Linked DNA regions of Homo sapiens: all the other regions are linked to region 6. Evidence: fine-mapped expression QTL. A gene starts in region 6. Each other region holds a variant in brackets. All regions are shown on one strand. Distances are between the middles of the regions. Region 1 overlaps LINC01237 (long intergenic non-protein coding RNA 1237). Region 2 overlaps LINC01237 (long intergenic non-protein coding RNA 1237). Region 3 has its middle 21 kb from the start of PDCD1. Region 4 overlaps LINC01237 (long intergenic non-protein coding RNA 1237). Region 5 overlaps LINC01881 (long intergenic non-protein coding RNA 1881). Region 6 holds the start of LINC03100 (long intergenic non-protein coding RNA 3100). Region 7 has its middle 77 kb from the start of LINC01881.

The links.
Region 1: its variant is fine-mapped to the expression of LINC03100 in whole blood (TOPMed, PIP above 0.99).
Region 2: its variant is fine-mapped to the expression of LINC03100 in skin (TwinsUK, PIP 0.95).
Region 3: its variant is fine-mapped to the expression of LINC03100 in whole blood (TOPMed, PIP above 0.99).
Region 4: its variant is fine-mapped to the expression of LINC03100 in testis (GTEx, PIP above 0.99).
Region 5: its variant is fine-mapped to the expression of LINC03100 in whole blood (TOPMed, PIP above 0.99). The same link has a PIP of 0.9 or more in lung.
Region 7: its variant is fine-mapped to the expression of LINC03100 in putamen (GTEx, PIP above 0.99). The same link has a PIP of 0.9 or more in hypothalamus and sun-exposed skin.

The regions. Positions count from the first base shown.
Region 1 is chr2:241,905,195-241,909,456 of GRCh38, forward strand. The region is part of intron 2 of LINC01237 (long intergenic non-protein coding RNA 1237); the gene reads left to right. Among named protein-coding and RNA genes, the nearest start is that of FAM240C, 6.9 kb to the left of the region's middle. The variant G/A (reference allele first, on the strand shown) is at 1,958.
Region 2 is chr2:242,034,984-242,039,245 of GRCh38, forward strand. The region is part of intron 3 of LINC01237 (long intergenic non-protein coding RNA 1237); the gene reads left to right. It overlaps LOC105373980 (a long non-coding RNA gene), which reads right to left. Exons shown (of 3, transcript XR_924086.3): 2 at 4,065-4,210; 3 at 3,012-3,890. Among named protein-coding and RNA genes, the nearest start is that of LINC01880, 47 kb to the right of the region's middle. The variant T/C (reference allele first, on the strand shown) is at 2,394.
Region 3 is chr2:241,835,341-241,839,602 of GRCh38, forward strand. No RefSeq gene overlaps it. Among named protein-coding and RNA genes, the nearest start is that of PDCD1, 21 kb to the right of the region's middle. The variant T/C (reference allele first, on the strand shown) is at 2,153.
Region 4 is chr2:242,055,058-242,059,319 of GRCh38, forward strand. The region is part of intron 3 of LINC01237 (long intergenic non-protein coding RNA 1237); the gene reads left to right. The region is part of intron 2 of LINC01880 (long intergenic non-protein coding RNA 1880); the gene reads right to left. Among named protein-coding and RNA genes, the nearest start is that of LINC01880, 27 kb to the right of the region's middle. The variant G/A (reference allele first, on the strand shown) is at 1,951.
Region 5 is chr2:242,120,361-242,124,622 of GRCh38, forward strand. All of the region lies in intron 3 of LINC01881 (long intergenic non-protein coding RNA 1881), which reads left to right. It also overlaps the pseudogene SEPTIN14P2. Among named protein-coding and RNA genes, the nearest start is that of LINC01881, 34 kb to the left of the region's middle. The variant C/T (reference allele first, on the strand shown) is at 1,903.
Region 6 is chr2:242,086,742-242,091,003 of GRCh38, forward strand. LINC03100 (long intergenic non-protein coding RNA 3100) reads right to left here and starts at 1,824. Exons shown (of 1, transcript NR_186294.1): 1 at 610-1,824. LINC01881 (long intergenic non-protein coding RNA 1881) reads left to right here and starts at 1,892. Exons shown (of 7, transcript NR_130702.1): 1 at 1,892-2,060.
Region 7 is chr2:242,163,991-242,168,252 of GRCh38, forward strand. No RefSeq gene overlaps it. Among named protein-coding and RNA genes, the nearest start is that of LINC01881, 77 kb to the left of the region's middle. The variant T/C (reference allele first, on the strand shown) is at 1,998.

The DNA of each region.
Region 1 (4,262 bases), 180 kb before region 6:
AGGGGCACTGGCCTCCTCGTCACAGTCCCTTCCCCGGGCCCGTCACTGGTGCTGGGCACCACACTTAGGCCTGGCCGTCCTCTGCCCAGGAGAAAAGGGGGAGTGGGTGCTGGGAGTGTGCACAGGTGTGTGTGCAGGGCTGTGGGTGTGCGCACACCTGCGTGTTTAATCATAATACAAAGTGGGCCGGGAACCTCACCCTGAAGTGTGAAGGGCAGTGCGTCATTTAGAATCCTTCTCTTTTTCTCCTTCTTGAGCAGCTGAACGTTGAGAGGGGCCCCGTCTGGTGTGGCCGTGTCTGGTCCCCCATGCAGGCCCTGCACCGTGGACTCCCAACCTGCGGGGATCCGTCCCCAAAGACGCCACTAGTTCTGCCAGCCCAGGGTTTCCTGAGTGTTTCCCGAGAGGCCCTGGTTGCACGGAGTAAGTTCTAGTTTAGTCCTGGTTCGTTCTCCCCAAACGTCTCTCAGGAGCTGTGTTTCTTCTTCATGACCTTCCCCTTAGACCTGTGTCAGATCAGGGTTAGAGGTTGGTCTCCTGGCCTGTGTGGCCACCCTGGCGCCCTCGACGCTCTGCCATGGGCTCCCTTTCTTTCATCGGAGGCAGCATCTGGCCATAGTGAAACTGAGTGTGGGGAGGGGGACGCAGAGCTCCCAGGTCCCAGCCCACAGGTGCCTCGGTGGTGAAATCCCCTGACACACTGAGTGGGGCTTCCAGGACGGGGGACGGAAGGAAAAGGATTAAGGGGTTAGGTAAGTGCAAATATGGCTTTGAAGGTTTAAAATCCTTCACTCATGTTGTGAGGGAAGAACAGGTACTAGACTAGAAGCCATGTCTGGTTGCCCTTGAGGGACCCCTCAGCCAATGTGAAGACGTGTCCAGGCAGCCCTGGGAGACATCCCTGTGGGGGGGCCAGTGCAGGAAACGGACCGCCGGGGGAAGCTCCTGTCATCCCAGGGTGGGCCAGGCTGGGACTACAGTCATGTGCACAGCATGGCTGAGATAATGAGCAAGACTCCAAGGTCCACCCAGGGGCCCGATGGCCTTTAGGGAGACCTAGCACTGTTGCAGGATCAGGAGGACCGGAGAGAGACCTTGGAGTGTACACAGGAGGATATCTTTATCATTGAGTGCACTCAGACCCAGCAGACTCAATGTCCAAAGACTGGGCCCAGAACAAAGACAGCGCCTGACTTTTACACACACTTCACAAAAGGGGGTGGGCTAGCTTGAAGCAAGCTTACAGTGGCGTGAAAGCAGGGATACAGAGGCAGGACAAACTCAGGATTGCACATGACTGTTGCCAAGCAACCCACATGTCCGTTATCTAGGTTAACCTGGGCACGGGCTTATCCCATAACCTTCACTATGTTGCCCAGGTGGCCGTAACTCAGGCCTGCTCAGAGGCTCATGACCTTCACTTTACTGCTTAGATAAAACAATGCTTGAAGTCAATAGTTACAGAGAACAGGAATTTATAAACTCATTCCATAAAACAAAGGAAAATTTGTTTTTCTTCTCCCTATATTGAGGGAGTGCTGGGAGAGTCTCCAGAGCACATTAGATAATATTATTATTAAGACTTTTCCTGGGTTTGGGCTGTGCTTGTTGCTGCCTCTAGGACAAGTTAGCCTAATACGGGAAAGCTTATTTCTCTTTCTTTTTAATTTTATTTTTCTTTAATTTCCCACCTCAACACGACCTGAACGTGGCTTAGTCTGCTGCTGGTGTTTGTGGAGGGCTGAATAGTGTCCTTAGGAAATATGTTCAAGCCCTAACCTGTGAACACAGACATTTTTGGAAATGGGTTATTGCAGATGTTATGCATTAGGATGACCTCATGATGGATTAGGGTGGGCCCTAAATCCAATGACCAGCATGCTTTTAAGAAGGGGAAATGTGTGCACAGACACACAGGGAAGGTACGGTGAAGCCGGAGGGAGAGAAGAAGGGACGC[G/A]TCTACACTCCAAGTGCAGAGAGAAAAGGTTCAGGGTTGAGGCTCCTGAAACAAGACGGATTCACCAGAGAAAAGCGAACAAATGTATTTTAGTTTTATGTGACTTGGAGCCTTCGTAAGGAAATGAAGACCCAGAGCCAGGTGGACCTGTGTGTTTGTGCTTTGGCTTGATGAAGAGGGGATGGCCGTGGGGAAACGTGGATGAGGACGGGAGGCTGTGATGTGATGGGTGAACTGGGCACCTCAGCACGGCCTGTGTGCCCGGGGGAGAGGGGATAGGTGAGCAGGGAAATGACTGTGTTGACTATACACAGCCACCACCTAAACCTCAGTGTTTGCTTTGTAATTGAGCTCACGCAAGCAAAGCTATCTCCAGCGGGGACTCTCTTCTAAAGAGCACGCACACTTTAATTTTTACCTGTCCTCGAACCAACCCTTTGTTCATTATAACAGTGAAAAAGATACCCCTGGGTGGAGATGTAAGATGCTAATGAGACACACCACCTACAAACAAGCATGTGTGCCGACGACCACCAGACTGTGCTTCCTGATAACACCTCTCCCACTTTCTTTTTTTTTTAAGGTGGGGTCTAGATCTATCCCCAGTCTGGAGTGCAGTGGTGAGATCTCAGCTCACCACAGCCTCTGCCTCCCAGGTTCAAGCGATTCTCCTGCCTCAGCCTCCTGAGTAGCTGGGATTATAGGCATGCGCCACCATGCCCAGCTAATTTTGTATTTTTTTTTAGTAGAGACGAGGTTTCTCCATGTTGGTCAGGCTGGTCTTGAACTCCCGACCTCAGATGATCCACTCGCCTTGGCCTCCCAAAGTGCTGAGATTACAGGCATGAGCCCCCATGCCCGGCTACCTCTCCCATCTTCTTATGGATCATCGGGTGAGACTCCCATAAAGGCAGCCTCCCTATGGCCGGTCTCTGCTGTCTCACCCTCATGACCCACCCTGAGTCCTTTCTCCCTTAGGGTGGCCTGTCTATTCTGCACCTCACTTTCAAAATACTCTTTTTTTTTTTTTTAAAGACAGAGTTTTGCTCTTGTTGCCCAGGCTGGAGTGCAGTGGTATGATCTTGGCTCCCTGCAACCTCTGCCTCCCGGATTTGAGTGATTCTCCCGCCTCAGCCTCCCAAGTAGCTGGGATTACAGGCGCTTGCTACCATGCTTGGCTAATTTTTCTATTTTTATTAGAGATGGGGTTTCACCATATTGGCCAGGCTGGTCTCAAACTCCTGACCTCAAGTAATCCGCCCACCTCGGCCTCCTAAAATGCTAGGATTACAGGCGTGAGCCCCTGCAAAATACTTTTCTTCTTTTGCAATAAGTTACTCTGTGCTGCACTTCTTTTGCAGTGTGTCTCTTGTTTAAATTCTTTTGAACTGAGAAGACGAGAACTGTCATCACGTCAGCTGTCAACACCAGTTCTCTGTGTCCTGTATCTTCAGAGAGAAGGGCGTGTCTTTTCCCCGGGTTTCGGGAGGGCGTCTCACATCAGGGTCTTGGGGACCTGCTGTAGGGGAGAAGGCTGAGGGGAGGTGAGAGAGACCTTCCTGCTTCTGCTGTTTTCACAGTGCCAAGGTGCCATACTTTGGGGTAGCGTGTCCCGAACCCCATCAAAAGCAACACAGAGGGTTGCTGGGGCATGGCCGGGAGCAGATTCCCTTTCACATCTCCGCAGGAACTGACCCTGCCGATGCCTGACCTCAGACTTCCGGTCCCCAGGCTGTCAGACAGATTTCTGTTTTGCTTAGTCGGGCAGACGCTAGGCTCTGTCCCCTACGGTGGCACCATTGGTGCCGCTCATCGGTTCTTTTCAGGCGGCACAAAGTCCTGCACACGTGTGGGCCAGGTCTCCAGGAGATCTAGGCAGAGTGAAATGCAGATTTTGGGGTCCCCTCTGGCTCTGTCCTTTCCAGGAACTCCTCTTTCCTCCCTGGCTGCCACAGTCACCCCGTTGCTCTCTGGGTCCTCATGCCGGAGGGACGGTGGTTTCCTACCCGAGGCTTTGCTCCCCTGCGTGGGCCAGCTGCTCTCGAGTGGAATGCCTTACAAAAGGAAATCTGCCTGGCGCCACGGCTTTCCTCCGAGTACGGACGCCTGTTCAGTCTCTTTCTGCTTCCGGCTGTGCCCGGTACCTTCTGGTGGTTGGTGCCTGTATCTGTCCAGGGGATGTAGGTGGTGTGTTGGACTGACATGAGCTGCTTTGCCATGACTGGAAATGGAGCCTCAGTGTTACTGGAAAAAGGGTCTCAATCAAGACCCCAAGAGAGGGCTTTGGATCTCTCGTGGGAAGAAA
Region 2 (4,262 bases), 52 kb before region 6:
GGATAAGGACAATCCTTGGAAATCCACCTTCCAGAAGGTTCCACTGTTGCGGCTTTGGGATCAGGAAAGGGGATTTGCAGGAAGGGACAATTGAGAGGGCTTCTCCCTGCTATGGAGACACACAGCTGTCTGTACTTCACGGGACCCCCTCCTTCAGATCCAGAAGACACTGAAAAGAAACGCAGGGCTTTGAACCTGGGCTGGGGCTCCCGGGGCTGGGCGGCTGCTGCCTCTCGCTGAGGGAATCCACACTCTCGAGGCAGCACCTCGCAGAGCAGGTCACCTCGACTGCCCCATGATGTCCACGAGGCTTGTTCCTGTCTTACTACGATCGAGAAGACAGCATGTGATTTTATGAACACCCCGTAAAGAAAACCTGAAAACCGTGTTCAAAGAAATGCCATTGAGCAAAAGGGCAGCTGTGGACCTGGCAGGTGGGGCCTGCGGTGCCTGAGGTCACGGCCAGCAGCCCCGGGAACGGCTCCGTCTCAAGGACATCTTAAGGCCAGTAGGGGCATTTGGGACGGCAGAGGCCTCACCCTGAAAGTGGTGGTTTCCACAGCTGGACACGTCCACAGGACCTCAGAGGGGAGGGTCAGAGCTGAGAGCTGAGATCCAAGCCGCGGTGTGGGTGAAGAAGGAGCGGGCAGGGATCGCTCTCCGGGAGAGGCCTGGATCTGGGCCTGAGCAGAGCCGCTGCGGACCAGACACAAGTGGCCACGGCAGCCAAACCAGATTCCCGGATCCCGGCCGACGGCCTTGGAATCCGGGTCACAGAGCCTTTCTCACGCGGTTTTCATTTTGCCTGGCATGGATCGAGTTTCTTAGTCTACAAACGTACAAGGGCTCACTTCAAGGCCACAATCCATCAACACAGCCAGCCAGGCTCATGCTCTCAGTCAATTTTCTTACTTTAAAAACCTATTTTACCTCAGCCTGCAGTCCCTGAGATGGATGGGTGTGAGCAGAGCTGTGAGGAAAGCAGCCCCTACTTGTGAGAAACACCTGCGCCTCACTGGGCAGACTGCAGGTGCGACCCACGCAGCCTGCAGGTGGGAGGCGGGACCGGGCTGGCTCAGAGGTCGGGCATGGAAAGCCATGGCCGAGGCTGACATCCACTCACTCCCCCCACAGTCCTCTCAGCTGGACAGCAACACACACCCACACTCTCATGCCAGTTTGCACACACAGCCATGATCATTGCACACACACGCACACACAGGCTGCTGCACAAGTCACACCTACTCATTCACACTCATGCACACTTACATGATAGATGCAAAATCCTTGTGTTCCAGGGGAGGATGTGAGGACGCAGGGGTGTGTGGCTGTCCATCCCACCGTGAGGGTGCAGGTGTGTCTGTACTCCTCCGTGCTGGGTCCTGGGGTGTGTGTGCAGGTGTGTCTGTCTCCACCTCTGCACCAGGTCCTGGGGTGAGTGTGTGGCTGTCTGTCCCACCGTGAGTGTGCAGGTGTGTCTGTACTCCTCCACACCAGGTCCTGGGGTGAGCATGCAGCTGCCCGTCCCGCCGTGCGTGTGCAGGTGTGTCTGTCTCTCCTCTGCACTGGGCCCTCACTCTGCTGCTCCCCCATTTTGTGGCTGGGAAAATTGTGATATCTGTGATTTTTCTCATCAGTCACAGCTGGAACTTGCACGACTCTGTCTCACACCCATTCACACAGCCGTGAGGACATCGATGTGCAGCCTTGACCTCCTGCAGCACATTCATCAGGCTCCCGTCGCCGCTGGGCCATTGTCAGGGCCTGGTTGCCCACCTGGCTGAAGCCTCCCCGTCATCACACCCCTCACCGGAGCAGCCCCAACTCACAGGCTGTTAGTTGTCACCATCAAGCACACCAGAAATTTTAAAATGATTTCTCTAAGCCAGGCACAGAAAGGCAAACATTGCTCTCTCTCTCTCACTAATTTGTCAGATTTAAAAATTGAAACAATTGAACTCATGGACATGGGGTGGGGAAGGACGGTTGCCAGAGGCTGGAAGGGGTAGCGGGGCTGGGAGAGGTGGGATGGTTAATGGGTGCAAAAATAGAAAAATGAGTAAGACCTGGTGTTCGATAGCACAACAGGGGGGCTACAGTCAGTAAGAACTTGACTGTGCATTTTAAAATAACTTAGGGAGTGTAGTTGGGTTGTTTGTAACTCAGTGGATAAGTGCTTGAGGGGACAGACGCCCCGTTTTCTGTGATGTGCTTACTTCACACTGCATGCCTGTATCCAAACATCTCACATACCCCATAAATTCATACACCTATGTGGCCACAAAATTTAAAAAAATCATTTATCTAAGGATAAAAGTGAAGTTCCCCTCGTTTCATGCAGCTTCTCTTCAGTGCTTTTGTTTTTCGAGATGAACCTTCCTCACTGGTATTGT[T/C]GGCACCAGGAGTCTGTTCGGGACAAGCTCCCGCCATTTCTCACCACTCCCAACTTCGGGGGAGTCTCTCTAAACACACGTGTTTTGTGGTATTCGGCTGACATTCTGACTACTGTAAGAAATCAATGCATGACATACAAATTCACACAATTTTGGGGAGGGAGAGACTGCAGGTTATGCTTTCAAAAATTTTCATGATTTTAGATTGTTTTTTCTTTTTAGAAGTTTTCTTTTTACGTGAGATATTTGACTCAAGCATTGTTAAAAATGCAACAACATCATAAAAGTTTGGTGGTTCAAAAAATAATGATGACACAAAACTCTAGTGCCTCTACACTTGGACAGTTTTAATTTTTTAATTTGGTAAATCTGGTTACAGAAGCCAAGTGATTTTTCAGGCACACCAAGTTTTCAGCGCTTGGCAGGAAGTAGAAATGAACATGTCTAGAATTTTCCACCATGCAGACCTTCAGAGCATGTGTGCCTATGTCTCTATGTGTATGTATACACATATGTGCAGACGTGTTTTTGTGTGTGTATGAATGTGTATCATGTGTGTACATGTGTGTTATTCATGGATTGCTTTTGCTAAGCAACAGATAATGTAGTGATTCCAAAGGAGTTTCAAGCTCATCTTTATTCTTTTTTTATTTTGCTGAGTAAAAAGTACAGCTGTAGCGGAACGTCCTCCTTAACTCACTGTGCGAGACGGATGTCACACGGATGACTATAAAACGTAGCATGCATGACGTATGCAATTTATAGAAAGAAAACCAGATGGAAATAAAAGAAGAATAAAATTGGCATAAATGACCCCAAATCACACCTGAAACACACTCTGTGGCCACTGATGGCTTCGGGCGCTCTGCGTTCGGGAGGCCTGGAAAGTCCCAGCTGCGAACATCTCCGCGGCCCCGTGACTCGGTTCACCGCATTGCTCAGACATCCACACCTCCCGTTACTTTACCTTAAGCCTTGACTTATTTTTCACCTTTTAAAGTTAAGATCCGTGATCAGTGAGTGCCACTCTGTGGGGAGTCACGTGTTTGAGATGGGAATTTCCACAGGCAGCTGAGAGAAGAGGATGGAGTGGGTGTCCCTCCGAATGCTGGTGTCTGATGCCTCAGTGAAGGCGAAAGGGTTGATCCTGAGAGGAGAAGAATGAGCTCATTTGTGGAAGAAATGATAACTGCTGACCACAATACAGGCCTTCAGGAGTGGTGCTGAGTCCAGGGAGCATGTATTAAATGCCATTTATGTGGCAAGCACAAAGCTAAGGACTGTCCAGTCTGTGGAGAGTAAATCTCCTTCCTGCCTTGCAGGCTGACAAAGTCCAATCATTAGTGACCATTCATGCCAGGAAGGTGGAGCTGCCTCCCCAGATGCAAACAAATCCTGTGGCTTTTCCCTGGTAGCCTCGGTGGTGGGTCCCGGTGGGGAAACAGTGACAGATGAGGGTGATTCCCAGGGGTCCTGCGAGAGGCCATGGTCGGAGGGCTGGAAGGAGGCGGGAAAGGTGCTGGTTCATTCACAGCTCCAGGTGGGCTGGAGGCATCCAGGCGGGACTGTGCCTGGGAACACAGGTGCCACCCACGGGGAGCTGCTGTTCTAGAGACGGCCATGGGCACCTCTGGGAACCCAGGAGACCCAGTGACCCACAGCTTTTATCACCTGGCTTCACAGATGGGATCTGGGACTTGGCAGTTAAACCGCTTAGGGAGGTCCCATGACTGCCAGGTGGGAGGGCTGGATTCGAATCCCAGAGGGAGGTCGCCTCCCCTTCCGCCATCGTATCCCCGACTCACTGCCTCTCCACCCTGGAGATGGGGAGAGGGAAGAGCTTCGGAGACCAGGGTGGGTGGGTGTGTC
Region 3 (4,262 bases), 250 kb before region 6:
CAAGCCATTCTCCTGCGTCAGCCTCCAGAGTAGCTGGGATTACAAGCGCGTGCCACCATGTGAAGCTAGTTTTTGTATTTTTAGTAGAGACGGGTTTCACCATGTCGGCCAGGCTGGTCTCGAACTCCTGACCTTGGATGATCCGCCTGCCTTGGCCTCCCAAAGTGGTGGGATTACAGGCATGAGCCACCGCACCCAGCCTGAACTAGTTTTATCCTTTGAAGCCAGCCCTTACCATCTCACGCCCCCTTCTCTTCCTCAGCAGTCCCTGGGCCTAGACAGAGGGTGCTTGATATGGTATAGCTTCAGCAACAGCTCCAGGAGACTTTGAATGAGAGAGATTTGAGAGATAAATGGCATTAATAATTTGAGTGGTAGAATTATAACGTACAGGCATAATGTGTCTGGAGTTGGTTCCTTTGGTGGTTTCGTGGTCTCGCTGACTTCAAGAATGAAGCCACGGACTTTTGCAGTGAGTGTTACAGCTCTCAAAGATGGCACACATCCAAAGGGTGAGCAGTAGCAAGGTTTATTGTGAAGAGCAAGAGAACAAAGCTTCCACACCATGGAAGGGGACCTGAGCAGGTTGTTGCTGCTGGCTGGGGTGGCCAGCTTTTATTCCCTATTTGTCCCCTCCCATGTTCCATTTTTGTCCCATCAGAGTGCCCTTTTTTCAATCCTCCCTGTGATTGGCTACTTTTAGGATCCTGCTGATTGGTGCATTTTACAGAGTGCAGATTGGTGTATTTTACAGAGCGCTGATTGGTGCATTTTACAATCCTCTTGCTAGCTACAGAGCGCTGATTGGTGCATTTTTACAGAGCGCTGATTGATGTGTTTTACGATCCCCTTGCTAGCTACAGAGCTCTGACTGGTGCGTTTTACAATCCTAGCTACAGAGCTCTGATTGGTGCGTTTTACAATCCTCTTGTAAGACAGAAAATTTCTGCAAGTCCCCACGCCACCCAGGAAGTCCAGCTGGCTTTGCCTCTCAACAAGAATTTATGCGCCCCTAACAGGAAGAAAGGAATCAACCCCATTAGGGAGCCAACTAAAACGATCATGAAGAAAATTACAACCTGGATCCTCTTTAGAGATGTGTAGCCAAGAGATAATTCAAGACTCAGTTTGAATTATAGGCAAAAAATAAAACTCAAGAACAGTGGTCGGGGCTGGAATTGCAGAACAAGTGTTTTCTTTTGAAACGTAATTTTTTTCATCTCTTTAGTTCCCCCTTTCTACCACAGAGAAATAATAATAAGACCAATTTGTGTACAAAATAAGTTTTAGTCTTATTCTATTTGGCTTGATCATTTGTGTAAATTGCAGCAGGAATAGCAGCTGGCCGTGTAGGCTCTTTTTAAATTGGCTTTGCTGGAACTTTATCGGAAAGTGTTATTTCAGTCAAAGGTCTTGTTAAAATAATATCCCCAAAGTGTCCTGTTACAAAAGAAAATGTATTCTTATTGAACTTATGCAAACCACCATATTGCTGTAAGTAAGAATGCTCATGAATAGTTTTTGAATTCTGGAGGTAGAAGGTAGAGAGAGAAAGCTGAACTTTGTTATTTTACTCAGTTTCTGTCACCTATAAATAGGTTAAAAGAAAAAAGGTTTTCTTGACTTTGGAAAACAAAACAAAGAATCAGTAACACTTTAAATACAAAGGCAATAAGCGCTGTTCAGTTCTGATAAGAACAGGAAAAGGAAGCTCACAGGTAGCTAAACATCTAAAGTATATAGTACTAAGACATAGAGCAAATTATATTAATTCAGATAGAGGGAAAACTATGAAATGTCTTAACGTCTTGGAGTATAAACCCAGCCCTGTGTCTCATGAAAGCCGTTCACTTCGATGGTTGTCTTCCCCCGGATCTGAAGACAAGGCTTTGGTTAGCTTGAGTTTGGTTTCAGATACCAGTGTGGAATGTTCAAGATTCAGCAGGAGTTGGTGCCTTTTTTAGGTGATGTGATACGGTTTGGCTGTGTGTCCCCACCCAAATCTCATCTCGAATTGTAATCCCCATGTGTTGAGGGAGGGACCTGGTGGGAGCTGATTGGGTCATGGGAGCTTGTTTCCCCCACGCTGTTCTCGTGATACTGAGTGAATTCTCTCGAGATCTGATGGTTCGATAAGGGGCTCTTCCCCCTT[T/C]GCTCTTTCTCTCTCCCCTGCCATGATGAACAGGATGAACGCAAAATTAAATTAAGACGTACCTTGCTTCCCCTTCACCTTCCACCATGATTCTAAGTTTCCTGAGGCTTCCCCAGCCATGGGGAACTGTGAGTTAATGAACCCTCTTTTGTTGATAAATTACCCCGTCTCAGGTAGTGTCTTTACAGCGTGTGAAATCAAACTCATACAGGCTCTCGGGGCATTTGTAGCTGCAATGCTCCCTGCCTGGGATGCCTTTCCTTTGCATCTTCCTCTGGCTGTCACCTCTTTTGTTTATAAATTACCCAGTCTCGGGCAGTTCTCTATAGCAGTGTGAAAACAGACTCATACTCTATGTGTGCCCAGGAGTCAACTCCCTGTAACTTGGTAGCACATGGATTTGTTAATAGTACCTTTTAAGGACCCTTCCAAAGTGCAGGGGAAAGAGTCCTGTAACTGATGTTTCTTCCAGTGTATGTAATCAGCAGGCTGGAGGTGGTGATTTTGGAGTTCATGACACAACTGGAAGCTGCAAAAAGATTTTACAGGCCAGGTGTGGAGGCTCACTCCTATAATCCCAGCACTTTGGGTTCACTTGAACCCAGGAGTTCGAGGCTGCGGTGAGCTATGACTGTGCCACTGCACTCCAGCCTGGGCAACAGAGTGAGACTCTGTCTCAAAAAAATATGTATAATCTCGTAATGATTCATTTTTATAGCTTTGATGATCCTGCCTGCAATAAGTCTAAGTGAGATGCTTAATGTAGGATTTGATTTTGAGGACTTTTGTGAAAGATGTTAAAAGGCTCAAAACATTTGATCAAAATAGAATCCTAGGTCATTGTAAAATAATAGTTACTCATGTAACCATTGCCATCTTCAATGGCAAGGCAGAAAGTTACATGGATGTAAAAACAAGCTCAGTTTTCATAAGCAATCAAAAAACCAAATAAAAATGACACTGGAAATTATCTTGATAAAATGCAAAATCTTCGTTTTTTGAGGCCAGTTACTCAAAAGGCAAAGAAACACCTTCTGCAGTCATTGTTTCTCCTCTGGAAGCCCATTGAGCTAACCTGCAAGTCAAACCTGATGAAAAAGGATATTTGAATTTAGTCAGGTGCAGGAAGAGTGTGTCTAGGGTCATGAGTGTACCTGATGTTATGGAGGAAAGGAAACAAGAAAACCAGCACCTTGAGCAGGGCAATGCATGACTCTTAGTAACAGCATGAGAAGTTTCCTGGCTATACTGAACAATGTATAACAAGAAAAGCCAAGAGTACAGAATCAAGTTATATGAAGGAAAACATTGCTTTTCTAGACCTTTAAGATCAACATTTCAGCATCAGGCCACAGCAGTAGTTACAATTGGAAAAGAAAGTTACAGGAGCTGATGAAAAAAAAGGCTGAAAGGGAAGGTTATCATCCCAACCAAGCAAAAAGATACACCTTGGCAAGGGCACAAGAACAGAAGGCAAGGATCAACACAGAATTAAACATCAATTTTTTTTTTTTTTGAGATGGAGTCTTGCTTTGTTACCAGGCTGGAGTGCAGTGGCACAATCTCGGCTCATTGCAACCTCCGCCTCCCAGGTTCAAGCGATTCTCCTGCCTCAGCCTCCTGAGCAGCTGGGATCACAGGTGTCCACCACCACGCCTGGCTAATTTTTGTATTTTTAGTAGAGACAGGGTTTCACCATGTTGGTCGGGCTGGTCTCGAACTTCTGACTTCAGGTGACCCACTTGCCTCGGCCTCGCAAAATGTTGAGATTACAGGTGTGAGCCACCGCGCCCACCTAAACATCAAATTTTATTAATAGCAAATTATTATTTTAACAAAACTTTTCTCTAACCGAAAACTTTTGGTTTTATATTAATTAGTGTACTTTTTTTTTTTTTTGAGATGGAGTCTCAGCCTGTTGCCCAGGCTGGAGTACAATGGCACCATCTCAACTCACTGCAACCTCTGCCTCCCGGGTTCAAACGATTCTTCTGCCTCAGCCTCCCGAGTAGCTGGGATTACAGGTTCCCGCCACCACATTCAGCTAATTTTTGTATTTTCAGTATAGACAGGGTTTCACCATGTTGGCCAGGTTGGTCTCAAACTCCTG
Region 4 (4,262 bases), 32 kb before region 6:
CACAGCCCACACTCCTGGGTGTGAGCAGGACGGGAGCCTGGAGCCAGGGCCAGCATTCACCCACAGTTAGGTTCCGGGAGTGCGTGGCCCACACTCCTGGGTGTGAGCAGGACGGGAGCCTGGAGCCAGGGGTCCTTCCAGTCCATGACAAGGAGGCTGGGCTTGCTCTGAACAGAGCCGGAGGCCAGACTGGCTTGAATGGGGGAAGAGGAGCAGCGGCCGGAGAAGTGTGGGGGTTGGGCGGGGTCGGAGGGCTTCCGAAGGGCTGACCGCATCTCTTAGATAACAAGCGGGAACAACGCGGGACCCACTAGGAGCAGGCGTTTGTCCCGGCCTTGGAAGCGGTGCTGGGACCCTTACTCAGGTCAGCAGGCCCGGAAGGCCATGGCCCCCATGGCTCCTGACTCAGAGCTGGACGAGGTTCTACGGTTCCAGGGTAGGATCGGTCCCTCCCACCATTTGTGCAGAGCCAGGGGCCTGCGAGACCCAGAAGAAAGCTGTGCCCTTGCTCCTGGCGGCTTGTCCCAAGTGGGCGGCTCTGGGCCTGGTCGCCCAAGGGCTTTGCGGCTGACATCCTTCTCTCCATGGCGCCCTGGGACCTGCCCTGCTCAGCGCCATTCCCTAGGTAACGGGGGGACCTGGGGTGTACTGCCAGGAGCAGGCGGAGGAGCAAGCCCCCTCTTCCCAGGCTCCACGCTTTAGGCCCTGACTGGGAGTGGTGCTCCCCGGCGTGGCCGTTGTCTCCTCAGCCTGGGGAGCAGGCCCTCTCTCCGGATGGCCGAAGCGTGTCCCTCAGAACTAAGCTCTGGCCAGGCAGACCTCTGTCCCCATGTCTGTTTATGAACCTGCACTGGGACCAGAAGTTAAGAATCCAAGCATTCAAAATAAAAGCCGTAAAAAAAATTCCTAAACTTAAGAAACTGCACATTTTCTGGAACGCACAGTTAGGACGGGTTTATGAGGGGCAGTGTAAAGCGTGTTGCAAAGCCCCCAAAACCTAAAAAGGACCCAGAAAGTATTGACTGCATCCTCCTGGATATAATCTATGTGCGTTGCAAGCGCTAACACCGCCTGGCCAGCGAGAATGGCTGCTTGCACATCCTGTGGGCTTTATGATTTACTCTCATAGAAAAGACACACATATCTAAAAACACATGTCACCAGCAGAGTTAATCACCTGTTGGACACACAATGCGCCGCACACCCCAGATCTGGAGCCGCCTCCAGGTCTGCAGAGCCTGGCGGGGTCACAGGCATCCATCTCTTCAAATGACGCTTTCTCATAATTCAACAGCCTTCAGCCTATGAACAATAATTTAGTTTTTGTAAAGAATAAAAAACACATCTTTTTATAAATTTGTTGAAAGGTAAAGTTCATTTTTTTCTCATTCCCCTCTTTTCTTTCCATCTCTTCTTGATGATTATTTTTTGAGGTTACTTTAATCCAGGATGAAATACAGCAATTAGAAAATAACATGCATTAAATCTTACAGTATATTAGAGAAAATCGTCAAAATTAATAAAAGCAGAAAGAGTCCTCTTTTGTAAAGAAAAAAATGAAGAAACTAATAGTCTAGAAATATGCGTATGCATTTAGTGCATAAAAATGGAAAATGGAGGGTAATTCCGTGCAAGCTGGACACCTGTATTTGAATAAGTTTAGTAATGAAAAAGGGCCAACCTATTTTATTTTAAGATGAGGATTCAGGGGGACTGGAGGGCCGTGGGCACCTGCGTCTTCCAGAGGCAACCCTGGAATGAGTTTGTTTCCATTTCTTGCAGCAGCTGGCTTAGCTAACCACACAATCTGAAAGATGCCTGAAGGCAGTTAAACAGTCCTCACCTATTCAGCCGTAATTCACCCAATTAGGTGACAGGTCCGACCCGAAGGACCTGGAGAGGCTCTCACAGTCATCACATCTTCTTTTTGGCCAGTTGAGAGCTGGCTCC[G/A]ACTCGGAGGCGTGGGGGGCCCTGCACAGACCCAGGGGAGCTGCTGGGATGGAGCCCACCTCAGGGGTCTGGGACGTTGCTTCAGACTCGCCTTTCAACGGAACATGCTGGGCTGACAGCCTTGTGGTTTCCCTGACTTTGAATCGGGTCTGTTTGGCATATTTGCTTAGAGACCTAGTCTTGAAGAGTTCGATGGTTTGGCTTCAGAAATTGTTTTAGAATATTTTCGAATAGGACAGAGTGATCAAGGGAAAAATGCTGAATAGGAAACACTACCATGTAAATGTGGAATCTTTTAAAGAGCTAAAATATTAAAGTACTGAAACAATATGAAGATGTTTGATTTACTTATTTTCACACATACAAGATGTGTGTGTATTTGTGAGTGTGTATCTGTGTGCATTCCTGTGTGTGTGCACCTGGGTGTGCACACCTGCGTACCTCTAAGCACCGTTCTAGCTGTGGGGAAATAGCAGTGAACAATAGTCTTGCCCTCCTAAAGGGAGAGAGAAATAGGAGAAACGGGTAAGGAGCCTGGTACGGGTCGAGTGATAAACGCTGTGGAGAGCGAAGCAGAGGGGCTGGGGTCCTGGAACCCCAGGCAGGGTCCACACTGAAGTTTTAAATTTAGGGGATCGGGAGGGTTATTTTGGTCAAATAGGAGGGGAACCTGCAGGAGCTACTGTGCTCTGGACGAGGAATGAGGCTGGCAGGCCTGGCCGGGGCATCCAGCTCTGTGGACCTGAAGCTTCCGTGACGGTGGCACTCATTTAGGGATGACAAGCCTTAGAGCCAAAGGTGGAGGTGAGCGCGAGACCAGGTTGAGCAAAGCCCCATCAGCCACGAGGCTTCCTAGAGGGCAGGGGGACTGGAGGACACAGGAGCATGAGGGCAGGAGCCCTGAGAACAAGGGGCCATGCTGGCAGGCGAAGATGTGGCTGATTGTCTGGGAAGGGGAGGCCAGTGCTGGGTGAGGGCGTGAACCTGCGTGCCCTTATATTTTGTGGTAGCCATATTTACAAAAACGAAACAGTAACCGGTAAAATTCCTGCTGCCGATGTATTTTACTGAACTCAGTATATCAGAACAACTATCCACTCACCCTGAAATCAATGCGACACATCTTTGGACATTTGAGACTCTATGCCACATACCAAGTCTCTAAAATCCAACTTGTATTATACATCTATAGCCCCCGCCCCATTCAATCCAGGGCAGCATTGCAGTGCCGTGGCCCCCAGCAGCCCACATCAGAGCCTGGGTGCTGACGTCCTGGCAGGGGGAACTGGAGGCGCCAAAAGGAAATGCCTTCTTCAGTAGGGGAGTGTCCCCCGCCCCACTGCTCTGGGAACAGCTGCAGGCAGGTTCCCTCTCTCCAAGCACTCTCAGACAGTGCTGTGATGAGACCCTTGTCACAGGTATTTTTGGGGACTCTGTGTCTTCTAGGAAAGGCTCCCGGGTCGTGGTCTCCCTGACAAGAGTCCTGCACTATGCAGGTTGCTCTCCTGATCCTCAAATGTGTCCTGGAGCTTCCCCTGGACCCTGGACACCCCAGCACATGGGTGAGCCGATGTCCAATGCAGGCCACGCACGAAATGCATCCACAGTGGGAGCCAGTGGTCATCCTGGTCAGGGCCAGCCTGCAGTTACCCCTGCCTGGCAAATAAGACATGGAGGTCGGGAGGGCTGGTTCCCTACTCCTGGTCATGTCACGGGACATTCTGGAACTGAGGCTCCATGTCTAGAAGCAGTGCCTGCTGGTGTCCCTGTGAGCTTGGGGGCCCATCTTCCAGGCCAGTCCTTGGTTCCTGCATAATCATTATGATACTGCCTTTCTTCTTCATAATTTTATGGAGGCTGACTTTATTTTCATTTCTCTGGTATATTTTTTAAAAACAAAAAGCAAAGTAGAAAGAATAATGTAAGACAAATGCCATTTGTTTTCTACCCGATAATATTCTGTAATAATTGTAACTCTCTTTTAACAAAATAAAAAACATGAACTGTTGCAGGCAAACCCCTCTGTCACCCTCCACTGTCTTTGCCATTTCTGATCTTTGCCAGAATTGTCTTTTAAAATTTTATTAGTGGTGAAATATGACAGTTTCCCACCTAAGATCAGAAGCAGCAGAGGGCTGCCTGTGCCCACCAGAGCCGTTCACGATGGTGCCAGGAATCCTAGTCGGCTTACTCAGACAAGCAAAAAACACATCATGTTTGGAAAGAAAAGAGTGAGATTATCATTACTCACAGAGGGCATCATCATCTGTAGAAAATTCTGCATAACATGTAAACCAAAAATAAATTCTAAG
Region 5 (4,262 bases), 34 kb after region 6:
TGGCTACTTTTTTGTATTTTTACTGGAGGTGGGGTTTTGCCATGTTGGCCAGGCTGGTCTTGACCTCCCGACCTCAGGTGATCCACCCACCTCGGCCTCCCAAAATGGGATTACAGGCATGAGCCACCGCTCCCAACTTCATTCATTTTTACTTGAAAAACTCCCTTAAGCATTTTTTTTTTTTTTTTTTTTTGAGACGGAGTCTCGCTCTGTCGCCCAGGCTGGAGTGCAGTGGCGGGATCTCGGCTCACTGCAAGCTCCGCCTCCCGGGTTCACGCCATTCTCCTGCCTCAGCCTCCCAAGTAGCTGGGACTACAGGCGCCCGCCACTACGCCCGGCTAATTTTTTGTATTTTTAGTAGAGACGGGGTTTCACCGTTTTAGCCGGGATGGTCTCGATCTCCTGACCTCGTGATCCGCAGCATTTTTTTAAGGTAGACCTAGTGGTCCTGAATGCCCTCAGCTTTGTTTGTCGAGGAAACACGTTATTTCTTCTTTCTTTCTAAAGGACAGCTTTGTCAGACATAGTATTAGTTGCTGGCAGTTTTTTTCTTTCAGCACTTTGAATGTATTATTCGATTCTGTCCTGACCTGCAAAGTTTCTTTAACTTTTGACTATTTGATTATATTGTGACTTGGTGAGTATCTATTTGGTTTGAACCTCTTTAGGAATCTTTAAGCTTCATGGATTTAGATGTCTAAATCTTTCCCATGATTTAGGCAGTTTTCAGCCATTCTTTAAATGAGCTTTCTTCTCCTTTCTCTACTTTCCTTCTCAAACTCCCATAACCTGACAATGGTTTGCCTAATGGTGTCTTGTTGGCTTTCTTTTCTCTGTCTCTTTTTTTTTCTTTTTTTTTTTTTGAGACAGAGTCGTGCTCTGTCACCCAGGCTGGAGTGCAATGTGTGGTCTCGGCTCACATTGCACTCCAACCTCCGCCTCCTGGGTTCAAGCGATTCTCCTGCCTCAGCCTCCCAAGTAGCTGGGACTACAGGTGTGTGCCACCACACCAGGCTAATTTTTGTATTTTTAGTAGAGATGGGGTTTTGTCATGTTGGCCAGGCTGGTCTTGAACTCCTGACCTCTTAATCTGCCTGCCTCGGCCTCCCAAAGTGTTGGGATTACAGGCTTGAGCCACCACGCCCAGCCTTCTTTTCTCTTTTTTATTCTTTTTTTCTTTGTCCTCTGACTGGATAATTTCAGAAGATCTATATTCAAGTTTACAGATTCTCTCTCCTGTTGAAGTTTACTATTGTGTTATATCACCCAGTCTGGTCTTGAACTCCTGGGCTCAAGTGATCCTCCCACCTTGGCCTCCCAAAGTGCTGAGTTTACAAGCATGAGCCACTGCATCCGGTCAGTCCCAGCACTTTGGGAAGCTGACGTGGGAGGATCACTTGAGCTCAGGAGTTTGAGACCAGCCTGGGCAACATACTGAGAACTTGTCTCTATATTAAAAAAAAAAAAAAAAAGGTCTTTGGGAGGCCAAAGCGGGAGGATCACCTGAGGTCAGGAGTTCGAGACCAGCCTGGCCAACATGGCAAAACCCCATCTCTACTAAAAATACAAAAATTAGACAGGTGTGGTGGCACACGCCTGTAGTGGTGGTGCATGCCTATAGTCCCAGCTACTCAAGAGGCTGAGGCAGGAGAATCACTTGAACTGGGAGATGGAGGTTGCAGTGAGCTGAGATCGCACCAGTGCACTCCAGCCTGGGCAACAGAGTGAGACTCCATCTTATAAAAGGAAAAAAGAAAGAAAAGAAAAATTCCGTATCTGAGTGTTTACTCCTGAGTTTTTGAGATTGTTATTAAGATCGTGCTCTACTGTGATGATTTGGGTTTGTTTGATAATCACAAAAAAGCATATTCTTTTGGGTGTTCAGCCACACTCCTTTGGTGT[C/T]ACAACTGCACATTGGTTTCACAGCTGCAGGACAAATTCGAGCATCTTAAAATGATTCAACAGGAGGAGATAAGGAAGCTCGAGGAAGAGAAAAAACAACTGGAAGGAGAAATCATAGATTTTTATAAAATGAAAGCTGCCTCTGAAGCACTGCAGACTCAGCTGAGCACTGATACAAAGAAAGACAAACATCGTAAGAAGCAATAGTTTCTCTTACTATTCTGAGAGCCTTATCATTCTACATCCCATCTTCCTGTGAGATTGTCTTTGTAGCATTTAACTCTAATTGCAGTTCTCTTTTTAAAAATTGGCTTGCTTATTGTATATTTTCCCCAACTAAAGCGTGAACTCCTAGTAGGGCGTGATGGCTCATGCCTGTAATCTCAGCACTGTAGGAGGCCGAGGTGGGTCGACTACCTGAGGTCAGGAGTTCGAGACCAGCCTGACCAAGATGATGAAACGCTATCTCTACTAAAAATACAAAAATTAGCTAGGCGTGGTGGCTGGGACCTGTAATCCCAGCTACTTGGGAGGCTGAGGCAGGAGAATCACTTGAACCCTGGAGGTGGAGGTTGCAGTGAGCCGAGATCTCACCATTACACTCCAGCCTGGGCGACAAGAGCAAAACTCCATCTCAAAAAAAAAGGGTGAACTTGAAGGCAGGTCCTGTGTCCATCTTTTCAGATTCTGTATCCCAGCACTTGGGACATAGACAAACACGAAGATGACAATCAATATTTGCCAAAATGAAAAAACAAACATGTAACATCATGTAAAAGAAGCTGGTTAGCTGGAGAAATTTCTTTACCATAGTCTTGCTTGTGGATCCAGTAGTGACTTTTACATTTTATATCTAAATAGAAGCTGGAGGCTTTGTTGGGTACTCATAGGCATAAAATATTATGTTATTTATTATAGAGTTAAATGCTACAAAGACAAATCTAATTAATAGGCCTATTTTCCTTTTTAAGTTCTACTCATAATTTCTTCATAGTTTTTATGATAAAAGGTTGGATTTTGATTAGAACTCCCATGCTTTTGTGTCAGAATTAAAACTGGTATTAGAATAAATAATTCAAAAGCTAGAGAAAGAGTACAATGAGAAGCCATGAGTTGCATTTGAATTATAATATTATGTCTTACAGATTTGGGGTATATGCTAAAGTTACCAAAGTTGTAGAAAATAAGGCCGGGCATTGTGGCTCACATCTGTAATTCCAGCACTTTGGGAGGCCGAGGTAGACGGATCTTTTGAGGTCAGGAGTTCGAGACCAGCCTGGCCAACATGGTGAAACTCCGTCTGTACTAATAGTACAAAAATTAGCCAGGTGTGATGGTGTGCACCTGTAGTCCTTGCTACTCAGAAAGCTGAGGCAGGAGAATCGCTTGTACCCAGGAGGCAGAGGTTGCAGTGAGCAGAGATTGTGCCACTGCACTCCAGCCTGGGTGACAGAGTGCTATGAGTCACCACACCTGGTATGAGCCACCGTGCCTGGCCCACAATGACTTTTACACATGTTGTTAAATCATCTTACAGATTTTATAATTTGGGGGAAGAACAGTTTTACTAAATGGTCTTTTAATGGAAACTCTACAAGAACCAGAATCTTTGCTTTGTTCACTTATGTATCCATTCCTAGGCCTAGAAAAATGTCTGACACATAGCGGCAATTATTCATTGAATAAATGGACCCAGCGATAGTACATTAGCTATGCTATATGCATACATTAAAGATGTAGATTATTGACTTTCAAAAGATAATTAATGTAACTTCTTACTGCTGAATATGTTTGTGAGTTATATTGCTGAGGGACCTTTATCTTCTCATTCTTTCATCTTAACCCAGTGTTATAAAATTGAAATCACCAATATTATTCCATATCTAAAATTAATATCTACCTTGTAAAAAATATCACTCTGCTGCATTTGACAATAGACTTTTTAGGTAATAATGATGCAATCCATAGGGTTTTTTGGGGGCACAGAGGGATTCATGCTAACAGAACATTTTATTTTCTATTTTCCCAGAGCTGTAAAACATGAAATTGGGGTAGTATAAGGCATATTTTTACTCTTTTTATAATTTTTTCTAAAAAAAATTAGTGTTTGTTCCCTATATAACTTTTAACTTTATAGGTAAATATTTGTCTCTTTCAGCTCCAGTTTTATGTGAAATAGAGTTTTCAGATTTATGTAGCATGGAAAGTTTTAATATGTCAGAGTTACTGATTTTTGCCATTTTCTCAATTATTTCTTTTTTATCTTTAGTTGATTTTTTTGTAGTGACACATTTTGTTTCTAGTCTCATTTCCTTTTGTTTATATTCTATGTATATTTCGTTTTTGGTTACTATGAGAAT
Region 6 (4,262 bases):
CAGTTAGTTTACCTCTTTACCATCCAGCCAGGAATTCTTTCACTAGGAATTGTGTGGATGCTGGCCAATTGGGCTAAATTTAATATTACTATGTCCCCTATTGTGGTGGTGGGGTCTTGGCTTGGCAATTTCTACTAGTATTCCATATGCAGTTAATCTTGACACATCAGTGAAAGAAAAATAAAATCTCAGGCCTCCAAACTTACTATGCCAAAGGGAAAAGTTAATATTGGCAACACACACACACACACGCACACACACACACACACACACATACATGCCTTCTTTTTGTTCCCAAAAGCTTACTTTATCTTATGTGAAATGTAGATCTACTGAGTATGAGACAGATGTATAACCCTCCCCCATACCTTTCTTTTCACATGTGAAATGTAGATTTGCTGTACTCTAATCAGAGCCTCACAAAAATGTGACCACTTGCCTCATAGCCTACTCTCCCCTCTTTCCCCTCCTACCGGCGCTTTTCCCTTAAATATTTGGAAAAAAGTACAGGCCAAAAATCCTACTGTAACCTGTGTTTCTTTTTCCCCAGGCAAATCCACAATTTTGGCAAAATAAACCTCTATATCAGTTGTGATCTGCCTCAGACACTTTTTGGTTTACACAACAATCCAATCATAGCGATTTATTTGGAAATATACCTTCACAAGTTAAATCAAACCACAGCACTACTGGGCATTATTTGTAATGGCAAACTATTGCAAACAATCTAAAGCCCATCATAGACATCATAGAAACTATTCTAATAAATTGATACATTTATATAATGGAATAATCCGCAACCTTGAAGGGAATGAAGGAAGGAATAAAGAGAGAGGGTAAGGAAGAAAAGAAAGGAGAGAGGGAAGGAGGGACAGACAGGTGTTTAAATTGGGGATGTGCAAGCAATATTGCCTGCTTCATTGCCTTCACATTATCTAAAAGCATGTGGTCAAGAAACACTATTACAATAAGCACATCAGAAATAACTTCTAAAATTACTTTTCCAAAATATGAATCCATACTATACACTTCCTGTAATGTGCACCAAATGTAGATGCACACATTTTAACAAGGAAAAGACTAATACTCATATTTGCTTGCTACACACCAGACACTGTTTTAAATGTTTTGCACACGTTAACTCATCTGTTCTTACAGAAATCCTGTAGCGTGCACCGCCACCTCCATGTTTCTAGGAGGAAACTGAGGCACGGGGGCTGCGGCTCCTGGACGCACCTGGCCTTCTCGGCCTGCCTCTCTCCCTCCAGCCGCCCCACATTCTTTTTTCCTAATTGGAAAAAACTATTCACGCTGCTCCTCCAGGGCATTTCAACCTTCTAGAAAGACTCGACAAGATTCGAAACTGTTTATAAAGAGAACGTGCTTGTGCCTGAATGCTGAGTGTGAGCGCGCAGTGATGCCCTAGAGTGCAGTCATCCCGGGCTTGGCGCCCAGCGGGTGGAAATACGGCCGCAGGGTGGAAATGCGGCGGCGGGGCTGCCCAGGCTCCTGTGGGACCCGCGCGGCGCGGGCACGCACATTCTCAGGGACGCGCGTCCTCAGGCCACGAGAACACCTGAAGGCCCCGGCCAGCGTCCTCCAGTGAAGACCCGGACCGGCGTCGTCACCCGCCGCGCAGGCCTAAATCTCAGGTCTTCACCGTCATCTCCCAGCGATCGCAGGGATCTCAGGCACTGACCGCGCCCGTCCCTGCGCCCCCCCGCCCCCGCCCCCCCGCGCCCCCGCGCCCCCGCGCCCCCGCGCCCCCACACCTCCACGCCCGGCACTCTGGGCGCGCGCGGACGGCGGGGCAGTGCCTACTACGCAGGCGCACGCTGCGGGCGTCAGGACCCGGCAGCAACACTGCCACGCGAATCCGCGCCGGCCAATCAGCATGGCCAGGGGCGGGGCTTCCCTGAGGCGCGCCGAGAGGCGGTGGCCCACTTCCGGCAATAATCGCCTGGTCGCCGTCAGGTGCCGGCCCAGGTGGCAGGCGCGCCCGTTGGGCACTGGGGGACGCGGGCGCGTCAGGTGAAGACTGGGGGCTGCAGGCGCGCTAGGTAGGTACGGGGTGCCGCGGGCGCGTCAGGTGAAGACTGGGCGCCGCAGGCGCCTTAGGTGAAGATTGGGGATCGCGGGCGCGTCAGGTGGGGACGATGGGCCACGGGCGAGTCAGGTGAAGACCGGGGGCGGCGGGCGCGTCAGGGGAAGACATGGGGTCGCGGGCGCGTCAGGTGGGGACCGGGGGTCTCGGGCGCGTCAGGTGGGGACGGGGTTGTCGCGGGCGCGTCAGGTGGGGACGGGGTTGTCGCGGGCGCGTCAGATGGGGACGGGATTGCCGCGTGCGCGTCTGCTGAGGTCTGGGTCCGCGGGCGCGTCAGGAAGGGACGATGGGCCGCGGGCGCGTCAGGTGGGGTCTGGGGGCGGCCGGCGGGTGTGGAGGGTTCATTCAGGGAGCTGCGGGCGAGTCAGGTGGGCACGGGGACCGCCCACAGGTGCATCGCGTGTCCTCAGCCGCTTCCCCTGCCCACCTTCTGCGACCCCTTCCCGCCCCCACCCTCCTGGGCCGTCTTGCAGGCCCGAGCTTGTGTCCGCCTCGCTGGGCAAGGTGTTTCGGGGACGACTCCTGCCGGCGTTTGCCCTCCGGGCTCGGCCCTTGCCTCTTCGCCGGTGGGCACCTGCTAGGTGTGACCCCTCATTCCTCCAGGCCACTCTGCCCCGTCTGCTGCTTACCTTTTTTTCCCTACTCCTGGTCTGTGGCTCTGGCTCTGTCTCTGTCTCCTCCCTTAATTTCTTTCCATGCTTATTTTTCTTGCAGCAGACACTAATTTTGCATCCTTCCCCTCACAGTAAGCTCAATTTGACCTTTTTCTCAATTAGATTCCACCTCTGTCCTTGGGTCTATTCAAACTCATTTTGAAGACTAAAGAATCTAGAGAACCATTTCTTCCCTTATGAAGCTGTCTCTTGCTGCCTCCAAATCCTTACCATCCGGCCCTAATCAAAAAAGACGTTTACTCTTTCATATTCTGTTTTCTCCTCGTCTTTACATGTTTACCTTTCCCATGAGGAATCTGTGATTATCTGTAAGTCCTTACAGTAAATCTTATTTCTGACTCTCAGCCCTCAGTGTGCCATTTTTTTAAATGTCCTTTCTGGATCAAATTTGTCCACACTTTTAAGCAAAACAAATAGGGAAACACATGTGGTCTTTTAAAATGGATTAGAGTTTTCTTTCCTGTCTTGTTTTCCTTGTTTTAGTGCCTTTATATTTAGATTCATCATTACTTGAAATCATATTAGTGATCTGTAATAGACGGTAAAAAAAAAAGTTAAAAGGCTTATAATTTAATGGCATCTGTTTTAATAGGGTTTTCAGGAACTGCTATTATAAACATAGTGGGTAGGAGCATGGATCCCGGAGTGAGACTCCATCATTTTGAATCCCAGCTCCACTGAACTCTTTGCCTCAGTGTCTTCATCTATAAAATAGATAATGAAACTTGTAAAACAAGAATAATGTTTTCTATCTTGGAGGACAGCATGAGGATTAAATGAGACAACATATGTAGATTGTTTAGAGTAATGCATAGCCTATAGTAAGCTCTAATAAATGTTTGCCATTATTATTGTAAAGAAAAAATATGCTTGTTGAAGGAAAGACTTTTTTTTTGTTCTGAGTCTCTCATGCCAAGAGTTTCCACCAGCAAATGAACTTCATGAAGTCATTTTCTACTGAAGTACCCCACCCACATGTCCTACCACATGAAATAGAAATTAAGGGAAGATTTAAAATAGTTAATCATTGTAGGCTGTCTGAAATAAGTTGGCATAAAATGTGCTTAAAATTTGCAAATTATACAAGCTACACCCTTTGAGTGCTTGCTCTTAAAAGTTTAATAATTTTCAGGAGTAATTTCTAGTTTTTTTTTGTATTTGCAAATCCCAAAATAAAGGTAATTTTAATTAAAATAAGCGTACAAAGCTCTAGCAATTCACATTTTTTTAGCTGAACAAATACATTCCCATTAAAAGCCGTGGGTTGTCATCATTCTATAAAACTTTAGTAGCATTGTTTTCTGATTTACAAACTCAGAAGCCTCAGTTTGGGAGTATTTTTGAAAACTTGAGATCCAGACCCCAGACCTTTTAAATTGCAACTTGTCTTTTTTTGTTGTTGTTGTTGTTTTTAATCTGCATCCAGAGTTTGTGCTTTAGTTCATGAGCTGTATAGATTATGCTTTAAGAAAAACTTCATTGTG
Region 7 (4,262 bases), 77 kb after region 6:
CCACAGGGCCAAGAGGGCTGGGAGGACCCCAGCTCTCCGACTGGTGTTTGCTTCTCTGCCATCAGGGTCGGGAGGCCATGCCAAGCATTGTGATTTGCAGAGTCCATGAGACAGGAACACTCCCACCACAGTGACCTGCCTCTGCACACAGCCAGAATGTAGCTGACTCCTTTCTTCTCCCACTTGCATGCTTCCAAGCCTTCAAAACATACTCATCTCCATGTTCTGTGAATTAGCAATTTTTAAAAAAATAAAAAAATAAACAAACTCATCTCTGAAGGTCCAGGTGATTTTTATGTTTTACAGAAAGTTTTGTGAAGAGATGACAGAAAGGGTTATATCACATCCACACAGCAATAACTCCTCAAAAGCAACTTTTGGCCGGGTGTGGTGGCTCATGCCTGCAATCCCAGCACTTTCAGGGGCCGAGGCGGGAGGATCGCTTGTGCTTAGGAGTTTGAGACTAGCCTGGGCAACATAGCAAGTCCCTGTCTCTACTTAAAAAAGAAAAAAAAAATGAGCCAGATGTGGTGGCACGCAGCTGTAGTCCCAGCTACATGGAAGACTGAGGTGGTAGGATCACTTGAGCCAGGAGGTTGAGGCTACAGTGAGCCATGATCACACCACTGCACTCCACCCTGGGTGACAGAGTGAGACCCTGTCTCAAACTTTTTTAAAAGGCCAGGCATGGTGGCTCATACCCATAATCCCAGTACTTTGGGAGGCCAAGGTGGGTGGATCACTTGAGCCCAGGAATTTGAGACCAGCCTGGGCAACATGGTGAAACCCCATCTCTACTAAAAGTCAAAAAAATTAGGTAGGTGTGTTGGTATACATTTGTAGTCTTGGCTCCTTGGAAGGCTGATGTGGGAGGATTGCTTAAGCCTAGGAGGTCGAGGCTACAGTGAGCCATGATTGCACCGTTGCATTCCAGCCTGGGCAAGAGTGAAACCCTGTCTCTCTCTGTCTCTGTCTGTCTCTCTCTCTCTCTGTCTCTTTCTCTCTCTCTGTGTCTCTCTCTCTCTCTCTCACACACACACACACACAACTTATAAGCATCTCTTGTTTCTCCTAAAATTACCCTTCTAGCATTAGCTGTCCCATTAAAATTCTAATAGGCTTTTTTGTGGACATCTGCAAATTAATTATAAAATTTATATGGAAATGCAAAGGGCCAAGTAAGGGCCCTTAAAAGGGACAAAAATGGGAGAAATTACTAGATACCATGGCTCACCATAAAAGCTGCCTTGATTAAGACAGTGTGGCAGTGGTCAGCAAACAGTGGTCTGCCCCTGGGCCAACTCTGCCCACCATCTGTTTCTGTATGGCCCATGAAGCAAGAATGATTTTTACATTTTTAAATGGTTGAAAATAATTGATTGGTGGGGACAATGCTGGTGGAGTCTGAAGTTGTCATGCAGTGACTCACTCAAGGTTAGGCAGATTTGGTGATATATGACACAGAGATGCAAAGAAATGCTGTAGCTGACACACACAGGGTGGCTCTGGGAGATGCAGAAGGAGCATGTCACCCAAAATAGAGCCAGATAGACATCTTTAAGGAAGGAGCAAAGGGGCTGCATCTTAAAGAATGAAGAAGGGATTTGTCATGAGAGATGGGGCAGGAAGTTCTTGAGAGGCAGAGGGAGAGCATGAGAATGCTGGGAAGGGAGGAGAGATTCTCACACATCTGGGAAGCTGACAATTCATCAGCATGTCCGGAAGGAAAATAAGGAGGAGGAGCAGAAATAGATGAGGCTGGATATAGAAGCAGGGCTGAAGCTGTGTTGATCGTGGTAAAGAGTTGTGATTCTATCCAGAAGGCAATAGGTAGCATTCTAAACAGAGATCTCTTAAAACAAGAGTCAGCAAATATTTTCTGCAAAGGGCTAAATGTTAAATATTTTAAGTTTTCCAAGCCATATGGTCTCTCTCTTAATGACTCAGGTCTTCCATTATACCATGAAAGTAACCAGAGACGTTTTTTAACACATGTA[T/C]TGGCTGTGTCCCATTACAACTTTACTTACAAACGCAGACTGTGTCAGACCTGGTCCATGCATGGTAGTTTGCCACACCCTGTTTTAGAAAGCTCAGGTTTATGATGTGATGGAGAATGCCTACAAGAGCTCTTGTTTTAAATGGTAGAGTGAATATACACTGGAATTCTATCCTGCTTGACCCAAGCTCTTGATAGCGAAAGGTAGAAAAGATAGATAGTAAATAGATAGATAGATGATAGGCAGGTAGATAGATAGATGATAGATAAAGAAAATACATAGCTGTTCCAGAAAACAGAAATGGATAATTTCATGAACCAAAAGCAGAGTAATATACTTTAGAAAGGAAGCAGGCTGGAAGACCCACAGTTGCAAAGCAAATAGAATTTCCAACTGCCTCTTGTAGCCCCTTCCTGGAAGTAGTCACAGCCCAGGGTGTTCAACTTCTTCCTCTGTTTTTTGTTTGTTTGTTGTTTGCTTTTCTGTGGGGTTTTTGTTGTTGTTGTTTGCTTTTTAAAAAAAATCCCTTTCCCTGCTTTTTTGTCACAGCAGCCTTTGTCACTTCAAACACCGCAAGTGTTCTTTAAAAAAAATTATATCAACCTTTCAACTAAAATGCAACATGTCTGAAACTTGGTATCTGGAGAGGTGAGAGGGACAAAGGAGCCGTTGTTACTGCACGTTTTCATTCTCCAAACTTCACCTTGCACACAGTAACAGACAATGCACAAAGCTACTTCCTTATGGACGGAAATTCTGAAATCCTTTTATGCCTGGCCTTTCCATCCTTCAACTTCCCCTCTCCCATGCTGTGAGTGATTGTATTGGACATTTTTGTTTTAATCTCAGTGACAGGGGAACACAGATAGCTCTAATATAGCTGTGACCCAGATGCTTCTGTTTCTAGCATGTATTAATTTTGCAGCAAACATTACATCCATAATTTTTCACTGTCCTTTGAAAATAATTAGGCAATATCTCATCTGAGGTAGGATGTTTCTAGGGGTTGTGTTCTGAGTGAGAAAAACTAATCTGTTCTCTTTCCACTGCATTCTAGGAACAGTAAGAGGACCTTGTGCATGAATAATTTGTTTCCACACTGCAGAGTGGGTAATAAGCAGATTAGTAAAAACAATTCTGCTTCACTTCAATAACAGCCTCCTCCAACTCATTTTTTCTCAACAAACTTATTTTTGCAGCAGAAGAATCCCAGACTTCTTAGAGAACCCAGTGACTTTTTGCACCTTAAATCTGTGAAATCCTCATGCTTTCTTCTGCCGTATCCATCGTTCAAACAAACATGAGGCAAAGCTAGACACATTCCTGAAGGAACCCAAGAAATTCCTCTCTTTCTCTCTCTGGAATGAAATGAATTCTCTAGACCACCAGTTCTAACCTTCAAAAACCAAACCTGTTTGTGAGATCTCCTTCAAATACTACTGTAGACCCCAGTGTTTATTCATTAAATTTTTTAAATATTTGTTTTATTTGGAATCAAAGTATTTGTAATTTTAGTATTTGTATTAATATAAGGGAGAAATGTTTAAATCTGTCTATGCCATATGTGCCTTCGGCTTATTGCCCAATTAATTGTAGCCTCAGGCTAAACTTTGGTTTCTGTCTTTAATTTTTGTCGGAAGAAATATAACCGGTCTCAAAACATCTGCTTTTATTGTAGGGACTCGTGCTGCCATCTCCATTCCTCTCTCTTTTCTTGCAATCTGGGTGGAAGTTCTTTAATATGAACATTTCAACCACCTTCACTCTACCATGTCCACTATCAGCACATTCAAACGTATCCAGCCAAGGGTATCATCTTAGGCCAGGGATTTTTTAGGAATCTATTTTGCTGTGATGCACCTGGTACCCCTTTGACTCACTTTATCACCCCAGGGTTCTTTTCATTTTAGAAGCCCAAGAGGGCAGAAAAAGAAGTAGGTGAGCAATTAAACTCTCCAAGTCAGGAGCGTCTCCCCTTGTGTTAAGCAATGTTGTAGAACATCGTATTTAGCAAGCTCCTAGCAGATGAGCCACGTGGCTGCTGAGCACACACGCCTGCTTGCTGCTGTGAGCTCAGACACCATCATTATGTCTTTTTCACCTCTGGAGGGAATTGTAAGCGCCACTTAATAACCTGTAAATCGTAGAGAGTTAAAGGTGTTTCCCTAAAACACTGATGACAGAATGAAAGGTAAGGAGTGTTAGCCACAGGTCAAAAGTGCAGGAAAGTCTCTCTATGTGGGTTGTTGAAGAAATGCAGGTCTT